2 separate regions of the Homo sapiens genome follow, and region 1 is linked to region 2. The links come from fine-mapping of genetic effects on gene expression. A gene starts in region 2. The other region holds a variant in brackets. All regions are shown on one strand. Distances are from middle to middle.

The links. PIP is the estimated chance that this variant, and not a neighbour inherited with it, causes the effect. A credible set is the group of variants that fine-mapping cannot tell apart.
Region 1: its variant is the best candidate, but not a certain one, in a credible set for the expression of FBXO22 in whole blood (INTERVAL, PIP 0.65).

What each region holds. Positions count from the first base shown.
Region 1 is chr15:75,856,000-75,860,398 of GRCh38, forward strand. UBE2Q2 (ubiquitin conjugating enzyme E2 Q2) reads left to right here. Exons shown (of 13, transcript NM_173469.4): 3 at 3,879-3,983. Among named protein-coding and RNA genes, the nearest start is that of UBE2Q2, 15 kb to the left of the region's middle. The variant G/A (reference allele first, on the strand shown) is at 2,625.
Region 2 is chr15:75,901,493-75,905,891 of GRCh38, forward strand. FBXO22 (F-box protein 22) reads left to right here and starts at 2,386. Exons shown (of 7, transcript NM_147188.3): 1 at 2,386-2,611; 2 at 2,999-3,137. The coding sequence starts at 2,472. RefSeq lists enhancers at 1,554-2,213, 2,038-2,127, 2,214-2,871, 2,488-2,587, 2,608-2,657 and a silencer at 2,708-2,777.

The sequences.
Region 1 (4,399 bases), 45 kb before region 2:
CAACATGGTGAAACCTGTCTCTACAAAAAATACAAAAATTAGCAGGGTGTAGTGGCACACACTTGTAGTCCCAACTACTGAGGAGGCTGAGGTGGGAGGATTGCTTGAGCTTGGGAGGTGGAGATTGCAGTAAGCCTAGATTGTGCCTCTGAACTCTAGCCTAGGTGACGGAGTGAGACCCCGTCTCAAAAAAAAATGTATATATATATGTGTGTGTTTATACATGTATGTGTATATGTGTATATACGTGTGTGTGTGTGTGTGTGTGTGTATATATATATATATATATATATAATGAATTTCAGTACAAATCCCAGCAGATTTATTTTTGGAAGTTGACAAAATGACTCTAACATTTGTTTAAAAGGGTAAATGATAAAAAAATAAAGAATAGACTTGTTCAACCAGATGTTCAATAAAATGTTGTATACTAACTCTGTTCCAGACAGATAAAGGCAATGGAAATTTAGAACCAGAGTCATGCAAATGAGAATTTAGTATAAGGTAAAGGTGGTATTCTAACTTAATAAGGAAAGGCTAGATTATTCTGTAAACAGTCTTAGGAAAACTATTTGAGGAAGTTTGAGTCTCAACTCTGATTTTTGTCAAAATAAGTTATAGTTGTATAGTTGGTTTAAACACATCTATTCTTAAGAACAGAAGGCTGGGCATGATGGCTCACGCCTGTAATCCCAGAACTTTAGGAGGCCCAGGCAGGCGGATCAGTTGAGGTGGGGAGTTCAAGACCAGCCTGGCCAACATGGCGAAACCCCATCTCTACTAAAAATACAAAATTTAGCCGGGTGTGGTGGCATGTACCTGTGATCCCAGCTACTTGGAGGCTGAGGCAGGAGAAGTGCTTCAACCTGGGAGGCAGGTTGCAGTGAGCCGAGATTGTGCCACCGTACTCTAGCCTGGGCGACAGAGCAAGACTCTGTCTCCAAAAAAAAAAAAAAGATATTTTAAGAGTTAAGGCTGAGGCTTGGCACAGTGGTTCATGCCTGTAATCCCAGCACTTTGGGAGGCTGAGGTGGGAGGATTGCTTGAGCCCAGGAGTTTGAGATTAGCTTTGGCAACATAGCAAGACCCTCTTTCTCTCTCTCTCTGTACACACACATGCACACGTACGTACGTATGTTAAGGTTTGTATGGAGAGCCATGAAGGTAAGAGGTAAAAATTAAAAGCTAGATGGACACATGTTTACATCCCCAGCAAGGGGGTTGATGGGAAAGAGTGGTAGACATAGTTCTGTTACTGCTACCTCCTTTTAGGAAGTTGCTTCTGAAGATCTAAAGATAACGGTTTTGTAATAGCAAAAATGAGTTATTTTTCAGTATCTAAAATATTACATAAACATGTTCATAAGGTTAAATGAAATAGGATATAAAATTGGGCCTAGTTTTTTAAAAGTGAATATATTTACATGAAGGAGAAAACAACTCACCTCCCACTCTTGCAGCCTCTGCCAGTTTATCAAAACCTAGTTTCTTGAGAGAATAAGCTACATGTCTTCACCTTTTTTCGCTGAAGTTATTATAATCTGGATTCTGCCTTCATCATTGCACTAAAATTTATCTCCTAGTTGCCAAAACTAGCGGCTCCTCTCTTAGTCCCCAAATTGACCCCTCTGCAGTATTTTGATACTGTTGATTGTTCCCTTGTTGAAACATTCCTGCATTCTTAATGTCCACCAATAAAGAGTTGGTTAAATAAAAATCATAGTGTATAGTTTTATAATAGAATATTCTGTTGTAGGCAAAAAAAAAAAAAATGCAGCCATTTTTTCCATAAGAGCATGTGCAGATTTCTAAGATATATTAAATGAAAAAGCAAGGCATAAAATATTGTGTATAATTGGCCCCTTTAGTATATAATGTAAAAAAAATCTATATGCTTGTTTATACTTTTTTCTTTCCTGGTGGGTACAGGAAACTGTCAATAGTAGAACACAATTAAGAAAAATTGGCTTCTGTGTCAGGCTCTGTGATAATTGAGTATAAAAGACAAGGCATGTCCCTGTCCTCTGGGAACTGATAATCTAATGGAACTTCCATCTGATTACTGTCTTGTTTTGATCTTATCACCCTGCCTTGGTCTCCTCTGATCTCTTCTCCCTTGGCCTACTTCTTCTCTTCTCATTCTGTGCTTTCTCTGAGTAATATTTTACTCCCATTACTTTAGTCATGATCTCTGTTCTAGGGATTCCTAAATCTGTATTCATCTCCAGAGTTTCAAACCCATATATCTGTCTGTAAATCATATATGTTAGGGAATCTCACTTACAGTGCCATGGATATTCAAAATGATGACGTTTAAATTTGCGTTTACCCACCTCCTAGCACTCTATCAGCCCCGTGTTTTTTCTCAGTAATTCTTGTGATTGTGAGTGGGACAAAATGAAATAATCAAACTAGTCACCCATACCCAAACCTGGGAACTGTCTTAGCGTTCTTTTATATACTACTGTTCTCTGACCCCCGCCCCCCGCAAACTAGTAATTTTCTAAGACCTGTCCTTCTGAATGTCTCTTACTATTTTCCCTGTGATCTCAGTTTCTTCCTCCCATCCCTCAAATGCTTTTTTGGTGTGTGGGGGAAGGGAGGAAAATTGAAATTCGTGGAGA[G/A]TGTACTACCCTGTCTTTCTTGTTGCTTGGTATGACTCCACTACCCTGCTGCCTCTCTCCCCAGCACTCCTGGAGCCCCTTCCGTGCCAGAGGCCAGAGTGTCTAGGTCTGTGTCCGGATTGCTCTGCCTCATCTTCATTATGCACTTAGCACGCAATAGAGTGTATTGGGTGGATATCAAATCCACACTGGAGCTTGGTTTCCGTTTAAGCATGAAGATTTTTGTTGGATCGTAATTTACCGTTCAACCTTCCTCATTTTCATTTGCTCCGTTGTCCACTTTGGGAAAGCTTATTCTTTGCTTCGTTAACCCATTCTAATCCTATGTCTTCTTTCTTTGTCCTTTGTAAACCTGCTTCTTTCTCTTCATCTCTTTTCTTGGTCAGAGCCACCTAGGAAACTGTTCCTGACCGAGTTAAGTGAGTTGCCTTATTAGATCCCATTTGAGTCACGTTATACATTGAAAAACATTTTAAACAATGAACACCATACTTGTGCACATGATTTACCTTGCTTACTTGTTGAAAGCAAATATGCTTAGAAAACAATCTGGACTTAAACATGGAAATTTACAGTTATTCTTTGCAGTTTTCCTAGTGAATTATTGTTATTTTTTATACAGACACTTAAGAGCCTACTAAATATCAAGTGTTACAGGTTTCATTTAATCTTTACCATTCTGGGAAAGTTTTCATTTCTTTGTTTTACAGATGGGTAGACTCATACTCAGGGAATTAGATAGGATATCCAAGGTCATCTAGATTGCCAGGCTCTGTCTACTAGATATTTGCTTCTGTATTTTTAAATGAATATGACTGGAATATATAATTTTGTAATCCATCTGTAACAACACTGCCTGTGTGTGTCTGGGTTATTTTTTCTGTTATTTTTTGTTTTTATTTTTTTGGTAGCCTCATTAATGCATTAATGTTCTCTTGTCTGAAGTTGTAAGTTTCTCAGAAAACGGGTTAGCAGTGAGAAATTGGACAATGTCTGGAACTTCCTTCCTCTGCCCTTATTGTTGTCATTCTGCTAGGTATCAGTTGTAGTGATTATACCCCAAGCCATAGTAACTTTCTTACACTAGAGGGTCCTGAAAATATTTTAAAGACTATTTTTTAAATCTGTAAGCTGCAGTTGAGCAGTAACAAACTTTTTCATTTCCTACTGGATTGATTACAGTAGTCATAACATTATTGATGTCTTCTAAGGGCTCTTTAACATAATGCTTATTTACTGAAATGTGTTTTGTAGCTTCGTCAGCAATTGAAGTGGTTGATATGTGAACTCTGCAGTTTATATAACCTTCCTAAGCACCTGGATGTTGAGATGCTAGATCAACCACTACCCACGGGTCAGGTAAAGTAAAAATTCTCTAGTGTTCAAGAGCTAAATAAATTGTCTCAAGCAAAAGTCAAACTAGGATGATTTTTCTTTTTATTGTTCAACTTATTTAGAAGTTAGTTTCATTTTTGTTCCTATTGAATTGTTTTGTTTGTTCTGTTTTAGGTACTAAAAATAAACTTTTCATTCTTTGGAGCTGCTGGTATTTACTATACAGGCAAACAATTGCCCTTCTCTCTACCACCACCTTTTTGTTAATATTGCTGGTTTCCGTAAATGCTCTTGCTTCTTTCATAGTTTGTCTTTGGTTATTCAATTACCTTCACCTAGCAATGTCATCTCCTTAAGTCTGTCTGTGCTTTTTAAAGACTAAACCAAATGTTATCTCCTGCAAGCAACAGAAATTTCCACTAGCTCACCACCATCACTAA
Region 2 (4,399 bases):
TGGTTTCATCTTTTGGTTGCATGTTATGTGCAGCCCCCTTACTTGATCCAGAGGTAGATAAATGGCCCTGTCTTCTAGTGTCTCCTTAGGAGGTGAGGAAATCTCTAAAAGCACCATCCCATCAAGCACACTGCCTCTTGCCTTTCCTTGGCTACATCAGGGACCTGTGCCCACCCCTAAACCAATGGTGGTGAAAAGAATGAAACCATCGTGATTAGTTTGCACAAATGGTTCTCAAAGCCTTATTTGGGGAACACTGGAGACCCCTGAGACCATTTCAAGAGGTTTTAAAAGACTATTTTCATAATATTAAAACATTTGCCATTTTCACTCATTCTTCCATGTGTACAATGGAATTTTCCAGAGGCTACATGATGTGATTTTGCAACAGATTGAATTCAGAAGCAAATATGAGAATCTATTTGTCTTCTATTAAGACAAATTAAATATTTGCAAAAATGTAGTGATGCCGTCACTGGTAAACTGTCCTCTTTCCCTACTTTATATCAGCCACAAAGAAAGAACGCCCACTTTGAAAGGCAGTCAGGTTTCATTCAGTAGCCAGAGAATGGAGAAGGGGAGCTCATACTCTAAAGGCACCTTCTCCCAGAGGGATGGGAGGCTGGGGAGTTTAAAGAGTTAGCTGAGGGGCGGGGGAGGTATGAACGGCATGCACAGACTGGAGTTCCAGACAAGCAGGCATAGTCCCTGAACATGCTGCTTCATACATCCATGTTCGTAAGATGCCAGTGAGCTTTCTTTAGGGAGAGGATTTTAGCATTATGTTAATTATCTAAAGGTAACTGGAGGGCGCCTGTTTATCTTCCTCTGGTATTCCGCAAGGGGTCAGGAAGCTCTGGTGACATCTGGGCCATCTGGCTTCCTTAAGCAGCTGCGCCTATAAATAGACTATGGGAAAAAACTGGCTGGGCTTGGTGGCTCATACCTGTAATCTCAACGCTTTGGGAGGCGGAGGCAGAGGGATGTCTTGAGGCCAGGAGTTTGAGACCAGCCTGGGCAACATAGACCCTGGGTCTACCAAAAAAAAGAAAAAAACCACAGCTACTCAGGAGGCTTATGCCACTGACAATGTCATACTATCCACCAGTGGGGGAAGGAGGATTTGGGAAATAATTGTTTTCCATAAAAATATTTCGTTAATGTATAACATCGGTTTTTTAAAAAGAGTTAAGCATTAAGATGTTCTGATTTAATTTTTAATATGGTAAATATTGATAGTCATAACACACATAAACTATTGGTCGTGTCAATATTTTAGGGTGTAAAGGGTCCTGAGGCCATAATGAGAACTGCTAATTTAGACCAAGTTTCTGCCCAAGATCTGGCGATCAAATCAGGGCTCCCTTAGGAAGGAATTGGCGGGAGGAATGGATGTTAGGTGGGGACAAACCTGTGTCTGCTGTGCTTCCATTTCTTGGTGGTTCTCAGTTTGAGCATGCATCAGAATCGTCATAAAGTGTGTTAAAACAGATTGCTGGGCCTCACCCCCAGTGTCTGATTCAGGAGGTCTGGGATAAGGACCGGGAATGTGCTAAAACTTAGTAGTTTCCAGGTGAATCTGATGTCCCTGGCGGGGAACTGGTGCACAGCTTGGGGCGTGCTTCACAGCAATCATCTCACTCAGCTACCTTAGAATGGCAGGTGCTATTTATGCCATTTTACTCATTCGAAACTTTAAACCTGAAGATTACAACGAGTTAACTAAGTTTACAAGGAATAAAGGCAGTGATTTTCACACACTAAGACAATTTTTTAAAAGCAAACGTCCGTTTATAAATCGAGCTTATGCTATTTAAACAGGCATTGGGACTACGAAGAGCAATAAGTACTACCTAGTCCCTGCAAGGAATTTGTGAATTAGAGAAAGATGTAAACTCAGAAATATGGCGGTGCCAGGGCAGTGAGAGGCACAGGCACAGAAGAAGAATTTATTTTCACTGCAGGAGGCCTCCTAGAAAGTTGCCAGGAGCGGTGGCTTATGTCTGTAATTCCAGCACCTTGGGAGGCCCAGGCGGGAGTATCGCTTGAGCCCTGGAGTTTCAGACCAGCCTGGAAACCCGTCTCTACAAAAAATACAAAAATTAGCTGGGCGTGGTGGCGGGAGCTTGTAGTTAAAGCTACGAGGGAGGCTGAGGCGGGAGGATCGCTTGAGCCTGGGAGGTAGAAGCTGCAGTGAGCAGAGGCCGCGCCACTCCACTCCCGCCTGGCCACAGCATTAGACCCAATCTCAAAAATGAAGAAAACAGTTCCGAGCGTATTACGGAACGGAGTACACCTCGGAGTACGGGCTCCAGACGAGGGAACGCACCGGCGTTGCCACGCCCACCTTCCCCGTCCAGCCGGAAGTGGCGCGGACGCCTGCTCAGTGCGCGCCGGCCGGGCAACCCTATGCTGGCGTAATCGGGTTCCTCCGAGCCGCCGTAGGACTGGTTCCGGCGGGCTGGTGAGGAATGGAGCCGGTAGGCTGCTGCGGCGAGTGCCGCGGCTCCTCCGTAGACCCGCGGAGCACCTTCGTGTTGAGTAACCTGGCGGAGGTGGTGGAGCGTGTGCTCACCTTCCTGCCCGCCAAGGCGTTGCTGCGGGTGGCCTGGTGAGGAGAGGAGGCGGAGGCGGGAAGCTTGCCTGGGGACACGCCGTGGGCATGTCCCAGGCTGGCGGGGTGGGGGGAGAGACCCTTGGGACCCACCAGGGCCGTCCCCGGCTCGCTCGCCCTACCTGAGGTGACCCCCTACCCGCGAGGTATCTCCCAGCCGTGGTGCCCCGGGGGGACTTCCCTGAGGGGCGAAGTTCCCCTTAAGGTTTTCTCCATATCTGGCTCTTCTTCCGAACTAGCGCCCTGACTGACACCTACCTACCCCGGGGACTTTGGATCCCGCAGGGATCTCCTGCTGCTGCGCCAGCGGGTGGGGGTTTGTGAGCTGTGGGAGAGACGAAAATGAACGTCCGTTCGCAATCCTTTGTGCGTTTGCGTCCTCAGCGTGTGCCGCTTATGGAGGGAGTGTGTGCGCAGAGTATTGCGGACCCATCGGAGCGTAACCTGGATCTCCGCAGGCCTGGCGGAGGCCGGCCACCTGGAGGGGCATTGCTTGGTTCGCGTGGTAGCAGAGGAGCTTGAGGCAAGTAGCAAGGGGTGTCATGCACAGTCATTTGCAGGTTGGTGGTTCAGTCTTTGAGAACTATTTTTTTTTAAATCCCAGTTTTGTTAATTAAAGGAACATCTCGTTCCGTGAAAAGATTTTGTAAACATCAGTTTTAGTGACTACACGGTAAGGATGTGTCATGATTTATTTGACCGTTCATCAAATGTTGGGCCTTTTTTTTTTTTTTTGAGACGTAGTCTCGCTCTGTGGCCCAGGCTGGAGTGCAGTGGCGCGATCTCGGCTCACCGCAAGCTCCGCCTCCCGGGTTCACGCCATTCTCCTGCCTCAGCCTCCCGAGTAGCTGGGACTACAGGCGCCCGCCACCATGCCCAGCTAATTTTTTGTATTTTTAGTAGAGATGGGGTTTCACCGTGTTAGCCAGAATGGTCTCGATCTCCTGACCTCGTGATCCGCCCGCCTCGGCCTCCCAAAGTGCTGGGATTACAGGCGTGAGCCACCGCGCCCGGCATGTTGGGCCTTTTAAGTATCCACATTTTCACTATTAACAACAACGCTGTGCAGAACCTTCCCTTCACCTGCTTCCCTTGAAGCAACTTTTTGTTGTCTGTTTTACCGGGAAGACAACTGGGTGTGTCTTGCTCAGTGAGCACACCTAGAAAGCCAAGAACCAAAACTTAAAGCCAAATATTTCAACTTCTGATCCTGTACTCTTTTGCTTCTCTGGCCCCCAACTTCAAAAGGGGAGCCAACACCAGGAGAGATGAAGACTCGAACTGTGGAGTCAGAGGGGCTGCAGGGTGTACCATCTCTGGGGAGTGGAAGGGAACCATTTGACAGTAAAGTGCCAACCTGCTGCTCTGTCACTCTGTTTACTTTAGTACGGCTTACAGACAGACATAACTACGGTGCAGCCGTCACAATCAGGAAATTATCACTGATACATTTCTACCATTTTATCCTCAGACTCGGTTCAGATTTTGCCAGTTGTCCCAGTAAGGTTCTTCATGGCAAAAAGATCTGTTCCCAATTGCAATTTGCTCTGAGTAAGTCCTGTTTCTTTAATCTCCTTTGATCTGGAACAGTTTCTCAAGCTTTGCTTGATTTTTCCCAATCTTGACACTTAGGAAAATCACAGGCTATTTTGTAGAACATCCATCAATTGTGTCTTTGGCAGGAAATAATCACAGAAGTGATGCTGTGCTTTTTTCACGGCATACTTTAGGTGGCATGTGATTTCCATTCGTCTTGTTATTGGTGGTATTACCTTTGATTACTCA